Regions from separate parts of the Homo sapiens genome. Here all the other regions are reported to be linked to region 1. Evidence: microRNA targets listed by miRTarBase, many of them from high-throughput screens and not tested one by one. Region 1 holds a microRNA gene; each other region holds the end of a gene's coding sequence.
The links. The annotated mature microRNA hsa-miR-4772-3p reads CCUGCAACUUUGCCUGAUCAGA and lies in region 1 at 2,042-2,063, opposite strand. An mRNA with a match to its seed (bases 2 to 7 or 8) in the 3' UTR can be bound and repressed. Matches are read on the target gene's strand: a 7mer-m8 pairs with bases 2 to 8, a 7mer-A1 pairs with bases 2 to 7 and ends in A, and an 8mer does both.

Region 2: miRTarBase lists A1BG as a target of hsa-miR-4772-3p. Seed matches in the 3' UTR shown: 7mer-m8 at 559-565 and 7mer-m8 at 828-834.
Region 3: miRTarBase lists IDS as a target of hsa-miR-4772-3p. The part of its 3' UTR that is shown has no 7-base or 8-base seed match.
Region 4: the mRNA of RHBDL2 is a reported target of hsa-miR-4772-3p. Seed matches in the 3' UTR shown: 7mer-m8 at 3,129-3,135.
Region 5: the mRNA of SPATA21 is a reported target of hsa-miR-4772-3p. The part of its 3' UTR that is shown has no 7-base or 8-base seed match.
Region 6: miRTarBase lists ZKSCAN1 as a target of hsa-miR-4772-3p. Seed matches in the 3' UTR shown: 7mer-m8 at 1,197-1,203.

The regions. Positions count from the first base shown.
Region 1 is chr2:102,430,399-102,434,398 of GRCh38, reverse strand. It overlaps MIR4772 (microRNA 4772), which reads right to left and starts at 2,110; the gene lies at 2,033-2,110. All of the region lies in intron 3 of IL18RAP (interleukin 18 receptor accessory protein), which reads right to left.
Region 2 is chr19:58,343,400-58,347,505 of GRCh38, reverse strand. A1BG (alpha-1-B glycoprotein) reads left to right here. Exons shown (of 8, transcript NM_130786.4): 7 at 1-153; 8 at 477-2,323. The coding sequence ends at 484. Among named protein-coding and RNA genes, the nearest start is that of A1BG-AS1, 6.5 kb to the left of the region's middle. RefSeq lists a silencer at 1-14 and enhancers at 1-211, 265-544, 212-712.
Region 3 is chrX:149,479,416-149,483,521 of GRCh38, forward strand. It overlaps IDS (iduronate 2-sulfatase), which reads right to left. Exons shown (of 9, transcript NM_000202.8): 9 at 1-3,803. The coding sequence ends at 3,331. Among named protein-coding and RNA genes, the nearest start is that of IDS, 24 kb to the right of the region's middle.
Region 4 is chr1:38,882,898-38,887,003 of GRCh38, forward strand. RHBDL2 (rhomboid like 2) reads right to left here. Exons shown (of 8, transcript NM_017821.5): 8 at 2,910-3,786. The coding sequence ends at 3,607. Among named protein-coding and RNA genes, the nearest start is that of GJA9-MYCBP, 3.3 kb to the left of the region's middle.
Region 5 is chr1:16,395,471-16,399,576 of GRCh38, forward strand. It overlaps SPATA21 (spermatogenesis associated 21), which reads right to left. Exons shown (of 13, transcript NM_198546.1): 12 at 3,874-4,051; 13 at 3,173-3,352. The coding sequence ends at 3,295. It overlaps SZRD1 (SUZ RNA binding domain containing 1), which reads left to right. Exons shown (of 4, transcript NM_001114600.3): 4 at 1-2,675. Among named protein-coding and RNA genes, the nearest start is that of SZRD1, 30 kb to the left of the region's middle.
Region 6 is chr7:100,033,751-100,037,856 of GRCh38, reverse strand. ZKSCAN1 (zinc finger with KRAB and SCAN domains 1) reads right to left here. Exons shown (of 6, transcript NM_003439.4): 6 at 1-4,106. The coding sequence ends at 3,660. Among named protein-coding and RNA genes, the nearest start is that of ZSCAN21, 14 kb to the left of the region's middle. RefSeq lists enhancers at 1-25, 26-527.

The DNA of each region.
Region 1 (4,000 bases):
CAGAAATAAATATAAAATCATGAACATAAGTTACAAATTCTACTCTACAAACAAAAATAGAGAGAACTTGCTTGATTTCAGTTTTTGTGGAAAGACTTGCCTGCCAACTCAGAATAAATCAACCATATAATGAGGCTGTCCCAAAGCTAAAACAATAGTGGGGCTGTGGCAATATTCTGTTCTGAACAAGTAAGGAAATTCTTCCTCTGTTTCAGTGCTGGTTAGACAGCATACAGATGATTGTTTTGAACAGGTGTTAGAAAGCTGTCCAGATCTTCAGAGTTCTGAAATGTTCATAGTGAGAATAATCAAATGGGCCAATGTTTCAACCCTAGAAACAGTTTTGAGAAATATAATCTAAATTATCTTCTTCCTATTTGGAAACACATTAAATTAACTTATTCTCTATTTAGAAACACATTAATCTTTGAATCTAGCCAGTCTCACCATGCTTACCAGTTATCCACAGCACTAGGCCCACAGGATGCCAACAGGTGCCAGTTACAAGAACTAGGAAATGAGAAGTATCAGGTATAGGTACAAAACTTCTTTGGGGTCGGCATGATGGCTCACACCTGTAATCCCAGCACTTTGAGAGGCCGAGGCAGGTGGATCACCTGAGGTCAGGAGTTGGAGACCAGCCTGGCCAACATGGTGAAACCCCATCTCTGCTAAAAATACAAAAATTAGCTGGGTGTGGTGGCGCACACCTGTAATCCCAGCTACTTGGGAGGCTGAGGCATGAGAATAGCTTGAACCTGGGAGGTGGAGGTTGCAGTGAGCCAAGTCTCTAGCTCAGTGCACTGAGCTAGATGCGCTCTAGCCTAGGCGACAAAGAGAGAGATTCCATCTCAAAAAACAAACAAACTTCTTTGTGGTTGGCATGATGGCTCACACCTGTAATCCCAGCACTTTGGAAGGCCAAGGCAGGAGGATTGGTTGAAACCATGAATTTGAAACCAGCCTGAGCAACATAGTGAAACCCCTTCTCTACAAAAAATTTTTAAAATTAGCTGGGTGCAGTGGTATGTGCCTGTAGTCCCAACTACTTGAGATGCTAAGGCTGGAGGATCACTTGGGCCCAGAAGTTCAAGACTGCAGGGAGCTGTGATTACACCACTGTACTCCAACCTAGGTGGCAGAATAAGATCCTATCTCTAAAACAAACAAACAAAAACCTTCCATGCAACATAGGGCTTAAAATCAACCCAGCAGCCATGTCAGAAGTGTGGCAAGAGAATGTGGCATGAGTGAGATTGTCTTAAACCACCAATGGAAATGTTATTCAAGGTGCAAGTCCTACTAACAGGAGGTCACAGCAATGTCGTCAAAACTCATATCTCGGTGCCCTAGGCCAGTACAGGAGAGACTTTCCTACTACCCTTGATTATAATTTTGACTTGTGTCAAGGATTTGCTTAGCTGAAGATCATAAAATGCCGTTACATTACATGTAACTATTATTTATTTAAGATGAAGTTTGTTTATGCCAAGGCTATTTTTTCATTACATTTTTAGAAATTAGAAAAATATATAGAAAAAGTTAGTAGCATAAATAATAAATAACTCACTTTAATTCTGACTTTTTCAGTCATTAAATATTTTAATTAATAATCTCCAAGCATGGTGACCCAGCCAGGCTCCAGCACCTTCCTGCAGCCTTCCCCAGGCCAGGAGGCAAAGGCAGGTCAGCAGTTATCTGCAGAAGGAGCAGCTGGCCCCACCCAGGTCCAGAAGGTGCGTGGCAACCCAATCAAGCCTCAATGCCCTGCCTAAGGCTATCCCTGGCCCAGGGGTAAGATCAAGCCCACACACATCTTTGTAGCCTAGTTTCTCCCCCTGCCCATCCCAAATTGCTGAGCAGCAATCCCAGATAACTAACTTTGCCTCAGGGCCTAGCCTGTTGTCCTGCCCAACTACACATTCTAACAACAGTATTTCTCGGCCAGATGTAGGGCATTTGGGTGCCCTTTTAGTTAATTAAGCAATTCCTTCATGTTGTGGGTGAATGGAAGACACAAGGGTATTGCTCTGTGACTGCCTCTGATCAGGCAAAGTTGCAGGCTATTTGGGAAGACAGTCTGCAATTTTGCCTGATCAGAGGCAATCACAGAGCTCAGCCAGCGACTCAACCTGACCATAGAGTTCAGAAAGTGGTCTCACTGGAACGCAAAGCACAGCAAGCAATTCCACTTGACCTCAGTGCACAGAAAACAGCCAAGCCCACCTAGAGAACTCAACACCAAAGTCTGCTTATCTGGGATTGCTACCAACTAGCCCACCTGGAATCCCAGGCTAGACTACATAGTGAAGGTCTGCTACCACCAAAGATCACCTACAAAGACCAAAAGAGGTGGCTGTTTCCTCAACTGCATAGGCACCAATGCAAGGAACAATGATTATGAAAAATCAAGGAAATATGTCACCATCAAAAGAAACTAAGAAAGCTATCATAATGAAATAGGAAGAAGTAAAGATCTAAGAAATAACTGACAAAACTTCAGAATAATCCTCTTAAAGTAGTTTAGGAAACTACAAGAAAATATGTATAAAAATAAAATAAATTTTAAAAACAATTTTCAAAACAAAATGAAAAGTTTAATAATAGAGAAATAGAAAAAAAAGTTTTAAATAGAAATCCTTCTCCCTGAAGTGTGGGTATTTGAAAAATAAAGAAATCCTACAGATAAAGAATATAATACCTGAACTATAATATCAACAGCAGATTTGATTAAGCAGAAGAAAGCATCCGTGATGTCAGAGATGACATTTGAAATTATCTAGTCAGAGGAGCAAAAAGAAAAAAGAATGAAAAGGCTTATGGAAATTATGGGACACCTTCAAGATTCACATATTAGGAATTTTGGAAGATGGAAGAAAAAAGAAGTCAGAAAGCATATTTAAGGGAATATCAGCTGAATATTTCCTAAATCTAGGGAAAGATGACATTCATGCATAGGAAACTCAGAAGTTGCCAATCAAATTCAACCCAAAAGGGGTTTACCAAGATACATCATAATCAAATTGTCAAAAATTCAAAGACAAAGAAAGAATATTGAAAGTAGCAAGAGATGAGAAACATATCATGTTCAAGAAAGTCCCAATATTGCTATCAGTGGATTTCTCAGCAGAAACGATATAGGCCAGGAGAGAGTGGGATGATATATTCAGTGTTGAAGGAAAAAAACCCAAACAAACTGCCAACCAAGCAAAGCTGTCCTTCAGAAATGAGAGGGAAATTAAACTTTCCCAGACAAACAAAAGCTAAGGGAGTTCATCACCACTTGGTCTACTTTTAAGAATTGCTAAAAGGAATTATTTAAACTGAAATGAATGCCTGCTAATTAATAACAAAAAATATGAAAGTAAAAAATTCAATGGTAATAGTTAATACATAGTCATATTCATAATTCATTAATAATGTAAGGGTGGTATATAAAGCAATTTATCATTACTATGAAGGTTAATAGACAAAACTAATAAAAACAATCCTAGCTGTAATTAATCATTAAGAAACAGAAACTACAACAAATGTAAAATTTGACATCAAACCCATAAAAGGTAGCGGGGAGGAAATGAAAGTGTACTTGTTGTATATAAAGTTAAGTTGTTATTAGCTTAACTAGCCTGTTATGAAGTGTTTTATGGAAGCCTCATAGTAACCACAAAACAAAAACGTGTAGTAGTGGCACAAAATATGAATATAAAAGATTCAAAGCATAGCACCAAAGAAAGCCATCAAGACACAAAGGAAGATACTAACAGAGAAATAAGTAACAAAAAACCTACAAAACACACAGAAAATAAGTTACAAAATGGCAACAGCCTGTGCTTATCTACCAATAATCACCTTGAATGTAAATGGATTAATCAAACCATTTACAATATGTCTCCAATCAAAAGACATTTAAAAATTCAGCTATATGCTGCCTTCAAGAGATTTACTAATAAGGACACATATAGACTAGAAGGGAAAAAACGGACAAAGATATTCCATACAA
Region 2 (4,106 bases), not on the chromosome of region 1:
TGAAGACGGTCCGCACCCCCGGGGCCGCGGCGAACCTCGAGCTGATCTTCGTGGGGCCCCAGCACGCCGGCAACTACAGGTGCCGCTACCGCTCCTGGGTGCCCCACACCTTCGAATCGGAGCTCAGCGACCCTGTGGAGCTCCTGGTGGCAGGTGACGTTTCCCTGGGTCCCGGGTGCTGGTTCCGTCTGCTGATGTTTGCCTGGGCTGTGCCCACCTCCAGGAGGGCCTCTCCCGGCTCCTCCCTTGGGCACCCCTGGTTAGCGCTGGGTCTCCCCAGGGCTCGTGGGGGAATTGCGGGCGAGGAACCGCCCAGCAAAGGCCCTGCAGCTGGAGGCGCAGATGGGGGTCTCGGCTGGCAGCCGACCACGCGCTTCCTTCCGGGGGGGCGTCAGGGAGGTCGGCCTTGATTTCCGCGAGGAGGAGGGCATAGGATTTCCCCTCCTCCACCATTTCTCTTTTCTCCCGTTGTCTAGAAAGCTGATGCAGCCGCGGGCCCAGGGTGCTGTTGGTGTCCTCAGAAGTGCCGGGGATTCTGGACTGGCTCCCTCCCCTCCTGTTGCAGCACAAGGCCGGGGTCTCTGGGGGGCTGGAGAAGCCTCCCTCATTCCTCCCAGGAATTAATAAATGTGAAGAGAGGCTCTGTTTAAAATGTCTTTGGACTCCCAGGGCTGAGTGGGCTGGGATCTCGTGTCCTCAAAGTGGATGGGTTCTGGGGTGGCTCCTGAGGTAGAGGAGTGGAGAACTGGCTCTTAAGAGCACAGTTTTCTTTTCTTTTTTCTTTTTTGAGACAGGGTCTCACACTGTCACCCAGGCTGGAGTGCAGTGTTGCAGTCCGGCTCACTGCAGTTTTGACCTCCCAGGCTCAAGCGATCCTCCTGCCTCAGCCTCCCAAGTAGCTGGGAGCCTGGGCATGCATCGCCACGTCTGGCTAATTATTATTTTTTGTAGACAGGGTCTCACTGTGTTGCCCAAGCTTGTCTTGAACTCCTGGCCTTAAGTGATCCTCCCACCTCAGCCTCCTGAGTAGCTGGGACTACAGGCATGAGCCACCATGCCTGGCCAACTCACATTTTTCTTTCTATTATTTATTTTTTGTAGAGATGAGTCTCACTATGTTGCCCAGGCTGGTCTTGAACTCTTGGGCTCAAGTGATCCTCCCGCCTCAGCCTCCCAAAGTGTTGGGATTACAGGTGTGAGCCACAGCACCTGGCCAACCAACACTTCTCAGGGCCTCTTTCATCTGTGCTCTTCCAGGATGCTGCCTCTTACTCCCTGGGCACCTCGGCCTGGTCCCAGCAGGTATGGGCAGTTGCTTGAGGCTCCAGACATACTCACCTCTACCTCGACCACATCAACCCCATCACCAAGAGGAGGTTCAGGGAAGCTGCATTTTGTGGTCTTGTCCTCCCAGTCCAGGGTGGTAGTGCTGGGCTGTTCCCAGCCTCCCACAGCAGAGCTGGACGCTGTGGAAATGGCTGGATTCCTCTGTGTTCTTTCCCATTATCCCTCAGCTCTGAGTCCTCTTGTGCCATCTGACATCTGATGCCTTCCCAACCACTGCCGAGTTTCTGCCTGGAGCAGGGCCTCAAGGCCCTGGCACACAGAAGATGCGTATCAGTATTATCAACCAATAGTTGATGAATTGTGTTTTTCAACGAATTTGCTAGTGATCTGGTTTACTGCCTTAGTAATATCTAGTTCCTAATATGCCTATGCCTTTTAATGTCTGCACAGTCTATGATGATGTCACTTCTCTCAAGCCTGATGTGTCCTCTCTCTCTTTCTTGCTAGTGGTTTATCAATTTTTAAAACCTTTTCTTGTTTATTTGTTTTTGAGACAGAATTTTGCTCTTGTTGCCCAGGCTGGAGTGCAATGGCGTGATCTTGGCTCACAGCAACCTCTACCTCCTGGGTTCAAGTGATTCTCGTGCCTCAGCCTCCTGAGTAGCTGGGCTGACAGGCACCCACCACCACACCCAGCTAATTTTTATGTTTTTAGTAGAGATGGGGTTTCACCTTGTTGGGTGGCCAGGCTGGTCTCCAACTCCTGAGCTCAAGTGATCCACCCGCCTCAGCCTCCCAAAGTGCTGGGATTACAGGGGTGAGCCACCACGCCCAGCCCCAGCTTAGTTTTTTAAAAAGTTTATTTTAGCCATTCTAATAGGTATGTAGACATATCTAATAGTGGTTTTCCTTGCGTTTCCTTAATGTCTGATGATGTTAAGCATTTTTTCCCCAAGTGCTTAGTTGCCATCTATATAGCATCTTTGATGAAATGTCTGTTTATATATTTTGCACACTTTAAAATATTGGGTTGTTTTCTTTTTTCTTCTCTTTTCTTTTTTCTTCTCTTTTCTTTCTTTTTGAGAGAGTCATGCTCTGTTGCCCAGGCTGGGGTGCAGTGGCATGATTTCAGCTCACTGCAACTTCCGCCGCCCAGGTTCAAGCGATTCAACTCCCTCAGCCTCCTGTGTAGCTGGGATTACAGGCATGTGCCACCACACTGGCTGATTTTTGTATATTTAGTGGAGAGGGGGTTTCACCATGTTGGCCACACTGGTCTTCAACTCCTGACCTCAAGTGATCCACCTGCCTCAGCCTTCCAAAGTGTTGGGACTACAGGCATGAGCCACCGTGCCTGGCCTGTTTGTTTTCTTACTATTGAGTTTTGTTTGTTTGCTTTTGCTTTTTTTTTTTTTTTCCCGAATCTCACTCTGTTGCCCAGGCTGGAGTGCAGTGGTGTGATCTCGGCTCACTGCAACCTCCGCCTGCCAGGTTCAAGCAATTCTCCTGCCTCAGCCTCCGGAGTAGCTGGTACTACAGGCACCCACCAGCATGCCCGGCTAGTTTTTTGTATTTTTAGTAGAGATGGGGTTTCACCATGCTGTCCAGGCTGGTCTCAAACTCCTGACCTTGTGATCCCAACCGCCTCAGCCTCCCAAAGTACTGGCGTGAGCCACCGCACCCGGTCATTTTTTGTATCTTTAGTAGAGACAGTATTTCGCCATGTTGGTCTCAAACTCCTGAGCTCAAGTGGTCTGTCCACCTCAGCCTCCCAAAGTGCTAGGATTACACTGCACCTGGCCTCCAGCCACATTTTTTTTCTTTTTTTTTTTTTTTTTTTGAGACAGAGTCTTGCTCTGTCGCCCAGGCTGGAGTGCAGTGGCGTGATCTCGGCTCACTGCAAGCTCTGCCTCCCAGGTTCATGCCATTCTCCTGCCTCAGTCTCCCAAGTAGCTGGGATTACAGGAGCCCACCACCACGCCCAGCTAATTTTTTTGTATTTTTAGTAGAGATGGGGTTTCAACATGTTAGCCAGGATGGTCTCCATCTCCTGCCCTTGGGATCCGCCCACCTCAGCCTCCCAAAGTGCTGGGATTACAGACGTGAGCCACCGCGCCCAGCCGCCTCCAGCCATATTTTAAAGATAAAATAATTGTGCAATCTCTATTACTATCATTTAATTCCCAAAGTTCCCGCTTTCCCTCTGGTATCATTTCCCTTCTACCAAGAGTTTCCTTTGGCATTTCTTTTCAGGCAAGTCTGCTGGCAAGAAATATATATCTTAGGTTTGTTTCATTTGAGGATGTCTGTATTTTGCCTTCGTTCTTTAAGTGTGTTTGCACTGGATATAGAATTCTGGGTTGACGGGAGGCGGAGCTTGCAGTGAGCTGAGATCACACCACTGCACTCCAGCCTGGGCAACAGAGCGAGACTCCATCTCAAAAAAAAAAAAAAAAAGAATTCTGGGTTGAGTCTTTTTTTTGTTTGTTTTTGAAATGGAGTTTTGCTCTTATTGCCCAGACTGGAGTGCAATGGTGCAATCTCGGCTCACTGCAACCTCTGCCTCCTAGGTTCAAGTAATTCTCCTGCCTCAGCCTCCTGAGTAGCTGGGATTACAGGCACCCGCCACCACGCCCGGCTAATTTTTTGTAGACACGGGGTTTCACCATGTTGGCCAGGCTGGTCGCAAACTCGTGAACTCAGGTGATCCACCCACCTCGGCGTCCCAAAGTGCTGGGATTACAGGTGTGAGCCACTGTGCCCAGCCTTTTTTTTTTTTTTTTTGAGACAGAGTCTCACTCTGTTGTCGAGGCTGGAGT
Region 3 (4,106 bases), not on the chromosome of region 1:
TCAGTTTACTACCCCCTAAGGCAGCAAGAGAGCAGGAAGATAAGCAAAATAGAGATGTTTTTGACAACTTGGCACTGAGAGACTATCCTAAGGGAATAATCTGAAATACATAAAAACATTTTATTCACAAAATTGGTCATCACAGCATTATTTACAATACTGAAAATCTGGAAATAGCCTAAATTTCTAACAATTGAAAGAAGGTTAAGTAAATTATAAGACTACACAATAAAATATATTACCAGCAATATATCTTTGTGAAAATCTATAATAACCACACATAATACTTAGTAAAAAAGAACATAAATTACATGATAAAGAATATGACCAGAACAATGCAAAAAATTCACACCCCCAAAAAAGACAAGATATTATATGGCAATTTTGTGGTAAAATATTCATGTATTTGTGCTGCATTTCTAATTTTTCCGTAACTGACACATCAGTTTTATAATTAGGAAAAAAATACCTTTTTAAAGTAAAGCGAACACAAGATTCTTTAGCAATGTTCATTCCATCCCACAATAGAGTCTAGAGAGTCACAAAAACCTCAGCCTCCTTCGGGAGGGGGGGAGCTTGGTAGTGAAAAATGGTCATGAATGAATGGGTGAAGAGAGGGATGGGACAACCTAGTAGGAGGGAGGTAGGGATAGGCAAGGGAAAGGTGGGGACCAGTAGTCATACTGGTCAGCCAAGGAAAGGGGCATTGTGGAGTCAGGGAAGACTCTGACTGCTCAACAGAGGTCTGTCTAGACCCAGTAGTAGGCACTGACGGTGTTATCAAAGGACAGGATCAAAGAGAGATTTTAGGAAGACACGTGGATTATTTTAGGGACAGGGGAGGAAAGAGGAGGGGTGGGTAAACTACTTGGAAAGAAAGGGAGAAGGACTGAGAAGATGGCAATGGGAGTGGGGAGGAAGGGGCTGATTGCCTTTGTGACCTCACTACCAAACATACTTTGCTCACCTCCAGATAAGTCTTTGTGGGGCAAATGCAGGATAAAGAAACAGCTCATAAGAGGCACTTGCCAACATCCAACAAATTCAGTTCAAAACCACAGAAAATCTAGGAGTCTCCAAAGAAAATCACAGTCCTGCTGTGTTGCCGAGGCTGGAATACAATGGCACGATCTTCATTCACTGAAACCTCCGTCTCCTGGTTCAAGCGATTCTTGTGCCTTGGCCTCCCAAGAAGCTGGGATTACAGGCATGCACCACCACACCCGGCTAACTTTTGTATTTTTAGTAGAGACGGGGTTTCACCATGTTGGCCAGGCTGGTCTTGAACTCCTAACCTCAAGTGATCCGCCTGCCTGGGCCTCCCAAAGTGCTGGGATTACAGGTGTGAGCCACCGCATCCGACTTCTAACGCACTGGGTTTTAACAAGCCCCTCAAGTAGTTCTGATGCTCCCTCATGTTTGTGAGCCACTGAATGAGGGCCATGCAAAATGTCTAGAATCACTAGTTCTGCTGTCAGCTAAACCACATGAAAGAACCCCTGCTCATGTGAAAGAGAGATTTCTACAAATAAAGTGACGGGAGGACCACTAATAAGTTATGTCCAGCTTAGTGGGGTTGGGGAAAGGTTATATGAAGCAACAAAGATACAGTTTCTCTAAGCCAAGTAAAGGTAAAGAACTGTGGAGCAGGCAATAAAGCCAAATGCACTGAACTATGTCATAAGGAATTTACAGGCTGTATTGTAAAAGCCACAGTGAACATGATGACAGCAACAACGAGGATGAAGAACAGCAAAGAAAAAGCTGAGGGAAACCATCGACCAAAGCAAGCGGAGGCTCAAAAGAGAGACGAGCTTCAGGATCAGGAAATGAACAGGGCCCTTCAGTCACGGAGAAGTCGTTGTTGCCAGAACAGTCAGTCACTTAACTGCTTAGAAGATCACCGTGTTACCATATAACCTCTATTGTAGGCTAATTAATTTTTAAAATCTGTCTAAAATTTACTGATTTTAATATAATATCTTGTCATTTTTGGCAACAATACACTGAAGTAACAATGTAGTTTGCTGTATTTTGTTTCACAAATATTTACCTGGAAACACTGGAGACTTTGTAAAGAGAAAATTACTAAAAATTACTCCTTCACTACAGGACAGTAGATATTTAATATTTATTTAGAAAGCTATTGACACTTCTGATGACTACTGATAACTGAGAAGATTCAACATGTTATAAATATGAGTTGTAAATATTCCATCCCTTTTGAGATTATATACACTAAGCTTTTTACTACCACTGGCCTTTCTGGATACTTTCATATTTAGAGAATATAGAACTACATTCTGGGAGATTGACAATGACCTAATATTACACTAATGAAAAGTCTTCACAGTCCTCAAAATAATTTAGAATTTAATGTTTTCTTTAATAAGCAATTAAAATGGAATATTTTCTGCCTCCTGAATAAATACATGTCTGTAACCAACCATCCCTAAAGAAGGATACTAATATATTTTGAGTGATTCAATCCACCCATGGATATAGTCACATCTTTAAATGTTTTCCAGTGTGAACAACAGTCTTTTAATAGATGGCCATTGAGTTCAAGGGTCATATTATTTGCTAACAAATTATTATTTGGGCCAGAAAGTATCTGAAAAAAGTTTAACCAAATTTCCTACACATCTCATATCTCTAGTTTATTAAGCATTATTTATTATTTGGTGTAAAAATTCTACATTAATTACTTCATACATATTTTATCTTGAGATTATGAAATCCCATGGTCTTAGAAACAAAAGATAGACTTTAAGACACTGGCTTCTGCTATTTTTTTTTAACTTTAGATTTGAAAAAGAAACATGGATTACATGTTAACATAATATTTTGAATATATAGGGCTCATAAGATATATTATTAAATTATAAACAAAATAATCAGGAACTTAGTGTGGTGCCTAGTTTGATATATGATTACTTTTTGAAATGCACTAAATTCCACAAATAATGAAAGTATTCTTTGTGTATAATGTTATGTTTGGTTATTATGTATGGTCTTCGTATCCAAAGGTATGACATAACTTGAGTTTGTTTGCTTTGTATTTATTCAGTAAATAAGCCGTAACTGTTTTAAAAAGAGGGAAATTAAAAAAAAAACTGGTCCAATTACCAATTATAAATTTTAATAAAGACTAAACGAAAAGGTTTGGCTGTTACATATTCTCAGGCCAAATTGTTGATGCATGTTTGGATTAACTAGCCCTCAGGCTGCTTCCAATATTATGGGTAATCACAAAACGACCAGCTCTAACTCCTCCTCTCACCAGCTGGAAGGGAGCACATCACATTTGCCATCCATGGTTGGCAAAACTCAAGGCATCAACAACTGGAAAAGATCTCCACCTTGGGAATCATTATACATATTGTGATCCTGCAATGGGTCAGAATCCACAAAATACAGTTCCCCTGCATGGATGTCAGAAAAGTTAGCTAGAAATTCATCAGGATTGAAGCCAACCCACACAGTATACCTATAGTCTATGGTGCGTATGGAATAGCCCATGATCTTTATATCTTTTAAACTCGGCTTGTCAGAATTCCACTGAGGGATGTCTGAAGGCCGGGGATACTGGCTATAGGCAATCAGTTCACGGGGATTACCAGGGAGGTACGGATCCTCTTCCAAGTCACGGAATCGAAAATGCTTCAGAAGGTTCTTGCCTTCTCTGCACAGCTCAACGTGAAATGAAGGAACGGGGCAGCGAGGTGGAACCTGCAGTCCTGCAAGTCCAGCCAGCGTGGGAAAAAGAGACACAAGTTCCACAAGGTCCATGGATTGCCTGCCTGAAACAGGAAGCGACAGAGCAGAATGGGTTACATTATAAAAGCCTGCCATGGCCAGGCAGGAGCAGTAAAGGAACCTGTCTGGGCTCCATATGTTTTCTTTTTTTAATTTACAACATTTATCTTTAGCAACAGACGTTTAGAAACACCACCTCGGCACCTCACCCTGCATTAATTACTCATCCAATCAAATAGCAGGATGCAAAATTAGGGCCCCACGAGGCTGTTGGCGCTTTTTAAAACAACCTGAATTTTGGAACCACCGATTTAATAACTGACTCAGACAAGGATCATCAATTAAGG
Region 4 (4,106 bases), not on the chromosome of region 1:
AGAAAGGTCCCTAGGTCATGTTGTAAAGCAAGTTATAGAACAATACATGTATCACATTTATCCTGTTAAAACCTACATTTCATAAAAATATCTAATTAGAGGCTGGGCTCATGTCTATAATCCTAGCACTTTGGGAGGAGGCTGAGACAGGCGGATCACCTGAAGTCAGGAGTTCAAGACCAGCCTGGCCAATGTGGTGAAACCCAGTCTCTATTAAAAATACCAAAAATTAGCCAGGCATGGTGGCACATGCCTATAATCCCAGCTACCCGGGAGGCTGAGGCAGGAGAATTGCTTGAACCCAGGAGGCAGAGGTTGCAGTGAGCCGAGATGGCGCCACTGCACTCCAGCCTGGGCGACACAGCAAGACCCTGTCTCAAGAAAAAAAAAAATATATATATACACACACACACACACACACACACACACACACACACACACACATATATATTTAGCTAAAATCGATTAACAAAAACTTTTCCTAGTTGAGATCAATCTGAGAAGCAAATGATGCTTAGGAGGAGTTATACCATGGACACCTCTAATTTGTTCTTCAGATTTGTCCCTTTGAGGGTGTAGAGCAGATTCAGTGAAGTTCAATACAGTGGATGAGTTGGACATTAACTTAAATCCATTTTCCTTTCTGCTCATCCTACATAGAAAAATGTCTGCAAGGATACAGACCATACTGTTGTGACCACTGATGATGGTCAGCACTAGGGAAAAACAGCAGGTTTGAAGTGAGAAGGCAAAAGGAGATTTTTTTTTTTTTTAAGACAGGGTCTCACTCTGTCACCCAGGCTGGAGGGCAGTGGCATGATCATAGCTCACTGTAACCTCGAACTCCTGGGTTCCAGTGATCCTCCCACCTCAGCCTCTGGAGTAGCTAGAACTACAGGCAAGCACCACCACACCTGGTTATTTTTTATGTTTTTGTAGAGTTCTTGAATGTTACCCAGGCTGTTCTCAAACTCCTGGGCTCAAGCAGTCCTCCCACATTGGCCTCCCAAAGTGCTGAGATTATAGGCATGAGCCACTGCACCTGGCTGAGATTTTATCTTTTAACTTCTTGTTTGAATCTTTGTTTAACCAAGAACACACTCATAAGGCCAGGCATGGTGGCTCACACCTGTAATCCCAGCACTTTGGGAGGCTGAGGTGGGTGGATCACTTGAGGTCAGGGGTTTGAGACCAGCCTGGCCAACATGGTGAAACACCGTCTCTACTAAAAAATACAAAAATTAGCCGAGTGCAGTGGTTCACACCTGTAATCCCAGCACTTTGGGAGGCCGAGGTGGGCGGATCACCTAAGGTCAGGAGTTCAAGACCAGCCTGGCCAACATGGTGAAACCCCGTCTCTACTAAAAATACAAAAATTAGCCAGGCGTGGTGGCAGGTGCCTGTAATCCCAGCTACTCAGGAGGCTGAGGCAGGAGAATCACTTGAACCCAGTGGGTGGAGGTGGCAGTGAGCCGAGATCGTACCATCGCACTCTAGCCTAGATGACAAGAGCGAAACTCCATCTCAAAAAAAAAAAAAAATTAGGGACCGGGCACAGTGGCTCACACCTGTAATCCCAGCACTTTGGGAGGCCAAGGCGGGCAGATCGCCTGAGGGCCTGAGGTCGGGAGTTCGAGACCAGCCTGGCCAGCATGGTGAAACCCCGTCTCTACTAAAAATAAATAAATAAATAAATAAATAAATAAATAAATAAATAAATAAATAAATTAGTCAGGTTTGGTGGCGGCCACCTGTAATCCCAGCTACTCAGGAAGCTGAGATAGGAGAATCACTTGAACCCAGGAGGCGGAGGTTTCAGTGAACCAAGATCCGGCCACTGCACTCCAGCCTGGGCGACAGAGCAAGACTCGGTCTCAAAAAAAAAAAAATAATAATTAGCCAGATGTGGTGGCGCATGCCTGTAATCCCAGCTACTCTGGAGGCTGAGGTAGGAGAATTGCTTGAACCCAGGAGGCAGAGGTTGCAGTGAGCCAAGATCAGCCCACTGCACTCCAGCCTGGGAAACAGAGCGAGACTCCATCTCAAAAAAAAACAAAACAAAAAAAAAAACACTCATATTCCCATGTTTATACTTAAATTTAACTTTTTAAACAAATTTCTGATCAGTTTTTCTCAAAATACTAAAGTATTAACTTTTCTCACTATATCTAACTAAGTGTATATGCCCCTTCCAGATACAGTGACATGTTTAGATGGGTGTTTAATAAATACATTGATGATAAAAGAAAAAATTATATTTCCTATATTCAGATGACCCAAAACTACCATTTCCAAAAACATAATAAACCACAGTCTGAATTCTATACAGGAAAATGACACATGCTTCTCAGCTTTCAGGTATGACATTTTACCTTCTGTAAATAAATCCTACCCACTCCTAGGAGAGCCATGACCCACATGAAGGATGACAGTCTGATCACAGATGAGAATCTGAAGTCTAGGTATATAGTGTGCACCAGAAAGCCAGTGCCCGGTTCCTTGGGATCTTAGACACGGTATCAGAATCTTAAACTAGCAGTCCAGAAAATCCTCAGTCTTCTTCTATGAGATATTTCCACCATTCATGGTGTACCCCGCATAGATGTTTGTTCCTGTACTCCTATGATACCCTTCAGTGTTTGGGGAACACAGCATTGTTGGACCTATAGGGGAGACTACAGGTTTCCAAGTCATTATCTATGTTTAAATTCTGCTCCCCTCAGACAAGTACTTAATTCTTTAAGGGTTCCTTTAAGGGATTCTTTAAGATTACTCTAAGATGCAGAGTAATAACTACCTTTCCGGGTTGTTGATAATATTATCAATAAAGTGTGTAAAACACCTCAAACAGTAGTGATCTATCTCCTCAAACAGTGATCTATTTTAAAGTGATTATCAGGAGTCTGACACAGGTATAAAAAGTTTTTATTATCAGCATTGTACAGTATTCATAGATTTTATGAAGCATTCTCCAAAATATATCCTCCAAGGAGAGTAAGTCTGTTTTATAGAATACCATATGCCTGGGAAAGACCCAATCTCTAATTTTGTTTTGTTTTGTTTTGTTTTTTGAGACCGAGTGTCGCTCTGTCACCCAGGCTGGAGTGCAGTGGCGCAATCTCGGCTCACTGCAACCTTCGCCTCCCAGGTTCAAGCAATTCTCCTGCCTCAGCCTCGCAAGTAGCTGGGACTACAGGCACACGCCACCACGCCCGGCTAATTTTTGTATTTTCTTTAGTAGAGACAGGGTTTCACCATATTGGTCAGGCTGGTCTTGAACTCATGACCTCAGGTGATTTCACCCGCCTCAGCCTCCCAAAGTGCTGGGATTACAGGCGTGAGCCACTGCGCCTGGCCCCAATCTCTAGTTTTTACTACCCTTCTTTTCTCTCTTCTTCTTCCCTTTCTACATTAAGAAGCCCCTTCCTTAAATCCTAAGGTCCTTTTATAGGCAATCTTTGCAACTGATGAGTTTAATGCTGTTTTGTCCTCTATATAAAATTGTTAGCCTTTTCTGAGACTTCTCTGTTTCTTCATAGAGTCTTCCTTTTTTTTTTATTTCCTCCAGATGGCTCTTTTTATTAATTGACTTACAATAGGGGCAGGTCAGTTTGCTGGAGATAGGAAAATGTTGAAAAACACAGCAAATAAGACACAAGCTAAATATGCAGCAATTGCTATCCAAAACCTTGGATCTTTCAGCAGTGCTTTATCAAAGCAGCTAAACACCGTGTAGCCAATGGACATTCCAGCAAATCCACCTGCAATGTGAGCTGCAAAAGACACCTTGGGAGAAAAGGAGGGAAAATGGAAATAAGTGAAGACAATGCTAATTGTGTATTTCAGTTGCATCTCTCTTATTCAAACACAAATACCGTCACAGTTAAACAAGAGTCTTAAAGGTCTAGAGAACTAGGGGTAAGGCAAAAGAGACACAAAACTCCATGTGCACAGAGAGAAGGAGATACTCTGAAAGATACAAAGCTTAAAAATGTCATTTTCACCCATTCTTAGAGTACAAAAGACAGAGAAATTGTTTCTCATTCTTAATCATCATTGCATTTAAAATAATTCTATATAATGCCAACTAAGAGAATGGTTGAGTT
Region 5 (4,106 bases), not on the chromosome of region 1:
CCAGTGCCAGCAATAACAGTTTATCATGCTCATTAATTTGGGATTTCAAAACACAAATGAAAACTCACACCCACCCACCCCCAAGTGCATGTCTCCATCACTTAAAAAGTAAGTTCCATTTGAAAATATCCTTTCTTTTTTTTTTCTTCCTATTTTTGTTTGTTTATACAAATATCTGATTTGCAAGAAAAAGTGCATGGGAGGGGTTTTAGTGGTTTAATGAATTTTTAATTAAGAAAGGGTAGTTTGGTAGTCTACTTAAAAATGTTTCTGGGAAATTCACTAGAAACATTAACCAATAGGATTTTGGTGAGCTTAGCTTCTGTATTCCTACTGCCGCCCAGAAAAGGGGCAGGGCTCTGCAGCCGCCAGGACAGACGAGCACCCCATGCCTATACCTCCCTCCCCGAGCTAAGTCCCAGGGCATCTGGGCCTTGCCTGGAGACTGGGCTAGCTCTGTAGGCTCGGAGAGCCTGGGGAGGGTGCCAACCCCACCTCTAGTATTTTGGGAGATAGGGAAAGTGAACCGACTTCCCCTTCCCATACCCCTCAGGGTGGTTCCCTACCAGCCAGGCTTACTACTTCTAGAAGAAAGCAGAGTGCCAGGGAGTGAGATTGCATCCCTGGGCTTAGAAGTGACGGAGAGAAGACTTGTTTAGTATTTTGCCATCAGCACAAGGAAAACCAGGAGAGAGTCTGCCTCCAGGACTCTGAGCCTTCTGCCTCGTATGTTCAGAAGGTGGATAGGTCTTCCCACTCCAGCATGGCTTGAACTCTTAGGGGTCTGCAGTGCTCCATCTCCATTGGTGGCCCCAGCTCAGTAACTATACCTGGTACATTTCCTGTGTGCAATCAGTACCTTGAAGGCAGAACATTCTGAATAAAGTTGGAAAAAGAACAGCTTTGCTTTGCAAAGATTGATGACAGACTGGTTCCTCAGAGGCCTAGGCTACCCGTCACCCCTTTTTCCAGAGCGAGGGCCTGGAATGAAGGCAGTTTATCCTCTGTCCCTGGAGCCTGGGGTTTGCTTTGGCTCCTTGAGGTGGAAGAGACTAAGAGGGCAGCTGCCCAGAGCAGCTGTGTGTACCTGGCTCCTCTCAGGCTTCCTGATCCCTTCCGTTGCACTGCGCCTTATCCCTCAGCCAGCCAGACAGCCTCCCTGCTCCTGACCAGCAGATACGTTTCGGAGTGGTTGGTGTGGTTTTTGTGATGAGGGCAGCACGTGGTGGCCAAGGTGGCAAGCTGAGTCTCACAGGCTCACTCCCTCGTTGGTTCCCTGTGGGAATGGTAGGCCAGGCCCAGTAAGCCATGCCCCAACACGTCCTCTCCTCCGGAGGAAGGGCCAGCTGCCAGCTGAGTCAGCAGCTAGTCCATAGCACAGCCTTATAACTGTAAAGCCAGGCATTGCCCATGAGCAGAGCTGGAACCAGAGCTTCAGTCAGTAAGAGGGAGGATTACCTTCAGGAGAAGGCAAGGAAGAAAACTGGCTGCTATCTTTATAGTTCCACTGCCCTAACCAAGTGTCCACATTCTAAATGTGTAGTGTCCATCCCTTATGTAATAGTGGTTTCCCGCCCAAAGTGAGACTTTCCTTTTAATTGGAGAAGGGTATAGAGGTAGTCCAGGTGGGAACGCCAGAAGTGCTGATTGCCCAGCCATTGGGACCACCTGTTCTTGCCCCACTACCCTCTAGTGGGAGGCCAAAGTAAAGGCTGGCTGGTGGGTGTCTGTGGATTGAGGATGTGGCAGGGACTGGTCCTCCCACCTCCCTCTGGCCAAAGATGGGCTTTGCCCGCTGTGTGCCTGTCACCACCCACCAGCAGTCATGCCCTGGGCTTCCCAAATGGAGAGGTAGCAGGCAACGTTTTTAAAAAGAAAGAAAACAGGAAACTGTATTGTGTCGGGGGAGGCGGGAGGGAGATGAGGAAACGGTTTGGATTTTGTGTGTGGGAGGGTATTTTTTGGGGGTAGTTGTCTGTAACTTTCCTAAGTGCTTTTTTTCCTTTTCTTTTTTAAAGTAAGTTGCAGGCTTTGGCTTGGAAAACCCCAGGGGGATGGGGGGCAGAAACCTGAGGCTGCTGCCCCTTTATCTGCCTTCACGGTACTGTCCCCTTCCCCCAGCTCCTCCCTGACCCCATGGGCCAGGCCTCAGACCTTCCAGCTAACCGCTTCCCATGAGCCACTACTCTGATGTCAGCCTATAACCAAAGGAGCTGGGGGGTCCAGGCCTGGTGACCAACCTTTCTCAGCCCACTCAATCAGGGTGCTCCCCACCTGCAGGCAGGAGGCAACACCCTATCTGCTACCATCAGCCCCTTCCAGAGCCCATCTGCCCCGCCCAGCCCTGCCCTGCCCAGCCATACCCTGCTCTGCCCCATCTGGGGGTGCCCTGCTCAGGGATGGGCTGGCAGGGCTGTACCCAGCCTCCCTGGTAAGCAGAGACTCAAGAAACCTCTGGGGTCCTGTTTTCTGGTCGTGTGATCCCAGGGGTGCACATGGGCCCCTTGGGTGTCTGAACAGAAGGGCATGGGAGGGAGGGCTGCACCCCTGCAGTCTTACTCTGCTGGTGTAGCGGGCAGCTGCCCACTCCCACCCCACCCTGCACCGCGGGCTCCTGAGTCGGCAGATTAAGCATTTTATAAATTGTATTTTAAATACATGTTTTAAACTTGTCAGATCTTTGTCCTCATTTCAGTCCCTGCCCTCTACCTCTTGCTGTGGCCGCTTATTTAACCCTGGGGGATTTCCCTCTGCCCAGTCCCAGGGAAAGACTGTCTTTGGTAAAACACGAGGCCGGGTGGTATGTGGGTTGAGGGGAAAGGACCCACCCCTCTTGGGGCTCCCAGAGAATGAGAGCCCTGGGTCCTGGGGCTCTGTCGGGGGAGCATGCAGAGGCCACCTCCTGCTCTTCCACAGGGCCTGTCTTAGAGCCAGTGGAGAGAGAGAATGGCTGCTTTTGTGGGGCTCCCAGTCCAGAGGGGGATGTGCTCACCTGAGGAGAGGCCTAGCCCTGTGCTTTGAGAAGGCACAGAAGGTCAAGACTGCACGCAGGGGCACCTGTAGCAGAAATCCCAACCCCGCGCAGGGCTTTGAGGTGGAACCCTGCACTCTGAGAGCCCAGTGGTGGCTGGGTGACAACTTGAGGGCCTTTCTTGGCAAGAGGCACAGAGGCTGAAGTTATTGGTGTTTATTAGCTCACCAGGCCACAAAAGCAAATCCCAGCAGCAGCTCCTGCCTGGTGGCCCATCTGTCTACAGGCCTTGAGCAGCTGCCTAGAGTCAGGCCTCCAGAGGGTCAGTGGGTTCGAGCTGGCACAGAGCTGAGCCACTTTCTGCTGTCAGAGTTGTGTTCCCTGGGGAGAGGAGTAGGGCAGAAGGGTGGGAGACATGTGGCCCTTTCCCTATCTGCCAGTATATGAGCCATCTGTGCGTGCCCAAGTGAGGAGAGAGAGGAGGCCTCCCCTCAGAAATGGTGGAACCAGCAGTTGTGCTTAGGGGCCTGATTCCAAGTCCAGAGCTCCCTTCCCCAGCGGCCTGGAGGGGGACTGCTGCAGGAGACGTTCCCCTCTGCCCAGGTGCACAGTCTGCTAGTCCTAATATGGAACCATAGGGAACTCAGAGTACTCAGTTAGGTGCCACTGAGTCCTGGACACAGGAAAGCAGAAGCACTCTGGCTTCAGTGGAACAATCTGCTGGGTACACAGGCCCTCAACAAAGGTTTGTCTTCTTCGCCTTTTACCCTTTCTCCTCCCTGGAGCAAGCAGCCTCTCAGGTATGATCTCTTAGAAAGATGGATTCCCAGGCATTAGGCCAGGGGCCTCTTAAGGAAGAATCTGGAAGGGCCTGGGCTGGGACCCTTTCTCTGGGCACCCACCTGTTTCCTTGAGATCCTGACTGGAAGAAGGGGCTGCGGATGTCAGGATCCAGGCCAGGGGGTGTGCACTGGTCTAGTGCATAGTGGTTGCTCGGCTGCCTACGGACCATCTTCTTGTCCAGCTGTGGGCAGAGCAGGATGCAGGGCACCTGGGCATAGGGGCTCTGCAGGTTGGGAGCTGGTGAAGAAGGAGGCAGAAGGAGGAATGCTTCACAGCATGCCCAGCCTTGGGA
Region 6 (4,106 bases), not on the chromosome of region 1:
TTTAGTAGAGACAAGGTTTCACCATGTTGGCCAGGCTGGTCTCGAACTACTGACCTCGTGATCCGCCTGCCTCGGCCTCCCAAAGTGCTGCGATTACAGGCGTGAGCCACGGCGCCCGGCCAAGATTGAGCTCCCTCTTGCAATGTTTCTCAAATTCATCACGATTGGAACATACCGACGGAATTCATTTTCTGTCTGAAGCAATGAGTGCTATACATGAAAGTTTTCCTCACATATAATATTCATCAAGTTTATTTACAGTATAAGCTTTCCGATGCTAAGGGCTGAGATGTGATTAAAGGCTTTGCCGTATTCATCACATTCAGGAGGCTCCTTTCTGGAATAAATTCTCTGATGTCTATGTGAACTGTCCCACGTATCACACGTCAACCTCTCTATACATATTTAGCAGTTTCACTTTTATGCCTTTAATATTAAGTGCTTTACATATCAAGATGTCTCATAGATCGATAATCTCAGGTTTTAGCCTTGCCTGCCAGGCTGGAGTAGAAACAAATACCCCACAACCTGAGGATTTTACTTCTCTTCCTGGCAAGGGTAGGGTATATATTGAAAAACTCTTCAAAAATTTCCATTAGGACAACTAGCATGCTAATGGTTAACTGTAGAATGTTTCAACTGTTAACAGACTTCAGCGGGCCAAGAACTTTTGAATGACTATCTTGAACGCCAATTAGATGTTGCAAGCGTTTTTGACCATGACCCAATTACACTTTGCACTGAGCATCTGATAAACGAATGCACTGCAAGTGGTTTTAATAAACAGTTGTAGCCTGTTTTCCTCAGAAAACACATCTTCAAATAGCTGCTTCAAGGACAGCATGTGGCTGAAGATCGAAGCAACCCTAGTGGCAGCTATCCAACAAAGTCAGGAAGATGTCTCCATGAAACGGAATTAAATGTGAGGGCACAGGTCACATTTAACCTTCATTTAAAAACAAAACTCAAAAGTGATGGCTGAGTTATATCAGCATATAGTTGTGGCTGAAAGAAAAAAAAAAACCAAAGGCCAATGTAAACATGACCAAAGTCCTTTCCCTCTTAAAAAATAAGTGCTTGGGTCGTTGCCTGGAGTTCCACACCTCACTTTTCAGTTTCTTTCTTTCTTTTTTTTTTTTTTGAGATGGAGTTTTGCTAGTCACCCAGGCTGGAGTGCAGTGTGCAATCTTGGCTCACTGCAACCTCTGCCTCCTGGGTTCAAGTGATTCTCCTGCCTCAGCCTCCCAAGTAGCTGGGATTACAGGTGCCCACCATCATGCCCGGCTAATTTTTATAATTTTAGTAGAGACGGGATTTTACCATGTTGGCCAGGCTGGTCTCAAAACTCCTGACCTCAGGTGATCCGCTCACCTCGGCCTCCCAAAGTGCTGGGATTACAGGCGTGAGCCACCGCACCTGGCCTCAGTTGCTTTCTAGAGGGCAAAAGTCCTTGCTCAAAAGCACAGGAGTTTTCTACAAAACCATTGCTGTGGCTTATTCTTTGAAGAAAATCCTTAAAACATTTTCTGCCTCCATTTTAGTTACTTAGATATACTCTTCTGGAGTAATGGGTTTTTCTTCCGTTGCATGGGTAGAAATATCCTAGTGACTGGTTGACTTGCAACACGTTTTCCCAAGTAATGCTGATGAAACTGCTTAGAAGCTATAGGGAAGTTGTAGTTGGTTTAAGTCATAAAGCCAAGGAGAGGCCAAAGAATGACCACTGTGCAGTTTTAGCTCCCACTTCGTTGGTTCCATATAAAACCATTTGGTCTCATGGACTTTAGCTGCTGATCAGTGAATGACTGATGAGTAATAGTTTTAGTATAAGTTTCTCAAGGGAAAGTCTCAAACTATATATGGGGTTCTCTTGTTATGGGGAGGTCACACTGATAGTCTTGAGGTTTGTTCTCAGTCTATGTTTCTGTTTCCGCAGGGCGGTCCTAGCCTTGGGTAGGACCCTTGTCCTACTTGAGTGGCGATGACTACTTACACAGCTCACAATCTCCTGTGTGTGAAACAGTCTCCTGCCATCAGCTTCTAGGTAGCCAGTTGCACCCTGCGCACAACGATGGGACCAATGAAAGTTTCATAACCTCACCTCAGTCTTTAGTGATAAGAAACAGAAAAGTCACTGTGCACTATGACGATGGCACAGCCAGCCACATCTCAGTACACTGCTGAGTTTCTCAGAGCAACAAAATACATTTAGTAATTGCCAGTGAACAATTAATGCTTTTGCAAAGTTACTGGAAAAGCGTGGGAAAAAACACTCCCTACCACGTTCCTTTTTCTGAAAAGCAACAAAAATCACATCTTCTGAACTCCAGTATCTAAGTACAAATGATTCAGAAAATCCCCAAATCATCATACTGTTCAGCAGCTAACTGCAAAGAATTCTAAGAGCTTTGCCACAGAAAGATGTCAAAAAAAAAAAATGACCTTCATCAGTGTTCATATTTTTCTTCAAGATGACGATGATAAAGTCATTTCTGACATTCCATGGTATTTACTCACTGTTTAGAAAGTCTATGCAGGCGGCTGACTAGTGCCTTTCGTTTATATTTGGAACAAAAACAGCATCAGACCCTAGAGGTTTAGCATGCCTTGTGGCTACGAAGGTCCTCTTTAGAAGCTGGGCCAGGCTACCATATTTCAGGGACTCACGATTCACAGGCTTTTATCACACACGTAGAAGTCCTGTAGAAGTCAGTCTGAATGAGTGCCTCTTAGGTGTTCAGTACTCACTATGTCCAGCACTGTGCTGGCAGGGATAGAAATATATCCCTTGACAACCGAATCTTTTTTGGGGGTTAGGGGGTGATTAAAAACTTCATACATGAAACAATGAAGGATTAAAAGACAGTATACAATCAAGTGCTAACTTGTGGAGAAATGCATTTAGGAGTGCGATAGTGCTTTAGGGATTTCAAGAAGGGAGAGATGTATTTGGAGTTGTTGTTGCCATTTCAGTAGAACTGATCTCAGGGATGAGGACAGAACCATCTACATTTGTTGCAGTCCTTTGGAACTGTAGACTGGTGCACATACCCTCTCTTTCGGGAAGAGATAGAAATCTTTGGTTTGATACTGATTAGCACAGTCCTAGATTTCTACAGCTTTGGTAGGCTACCAGTGATCATATATACAACTTATCGTATATATAACTACCTTGAGCAGCATGTCCCAATGTCGTTTTTGTTTTCACTGTCCCTCTTTTTTGAGAAATAAGCAGGATGTTGGCCAAAGTAGGGCTTGTTTGCAGCAAGTAGCATCCTAACCTCCGTATCACTTTCGTGGAGCCAATCTTGATCTTTCAACTATTATGTTGTGGTTGCCGAGAGTCCAAGAGTGCCTTAAAGGTATCCTCATTACTGAAAAGACTGACATTTCACTATGCGTGTGCTTTTCTCTTGTGTGGAAATCTCACGTGGATTATCCGTAAGATTAGCCTTTCCCTGCAGGGGCTGTGTGGAAGGATTATATGCCCAACTACTACATAAAGGCAGAACACTGCTGATGTGACTAGAAGGATCCTTAAGTGTGACTTTTGTTTTTTAATCTGTTGAGGCTGTATTTCTTTTTCCCTCCAGGAGCACACATCTCTGAAATAATTTTAGAAACAAAAGGGGGAAATGGCTTGATGGCAAATTCTTCCTTTACACACAACTTTTCAGGAACGCGCCAAATGCATCAAGGGAGGCTGGGCTGTACTCAGAGGCTCTCTCTCTGGCATGGATTCTGTGATGCAGAGTGAGGGTGGAGCTGCGGGTGAAGGCCTTGCCACACTTAGTGCACTTGTAGGGCTTTTCTCGAGTGTGAATTCTCCGATGCAAAATCAGGTATGAGTTTCGGTTGAAAGCTTTTCCACATTCACTACATTCATAGGGTTTCTCCCCCGTGTGAATTCTCTGATGCTTGGTGAGGTCCGAGCTCTGGCTGAAGGCCTTCCCGCACTCATTACATTCATAAGGTTTCTCTCCAGAGTGGATGCGCTGATGGAGGATGAGATTGGAACTGTGGCTGAAGGCCTTGCCACACTCGTTACATTCATGAGGTTTCTCTCCTGTGTGGATCCTCTGATGCAGGACAAGGTTGGAGTTAAG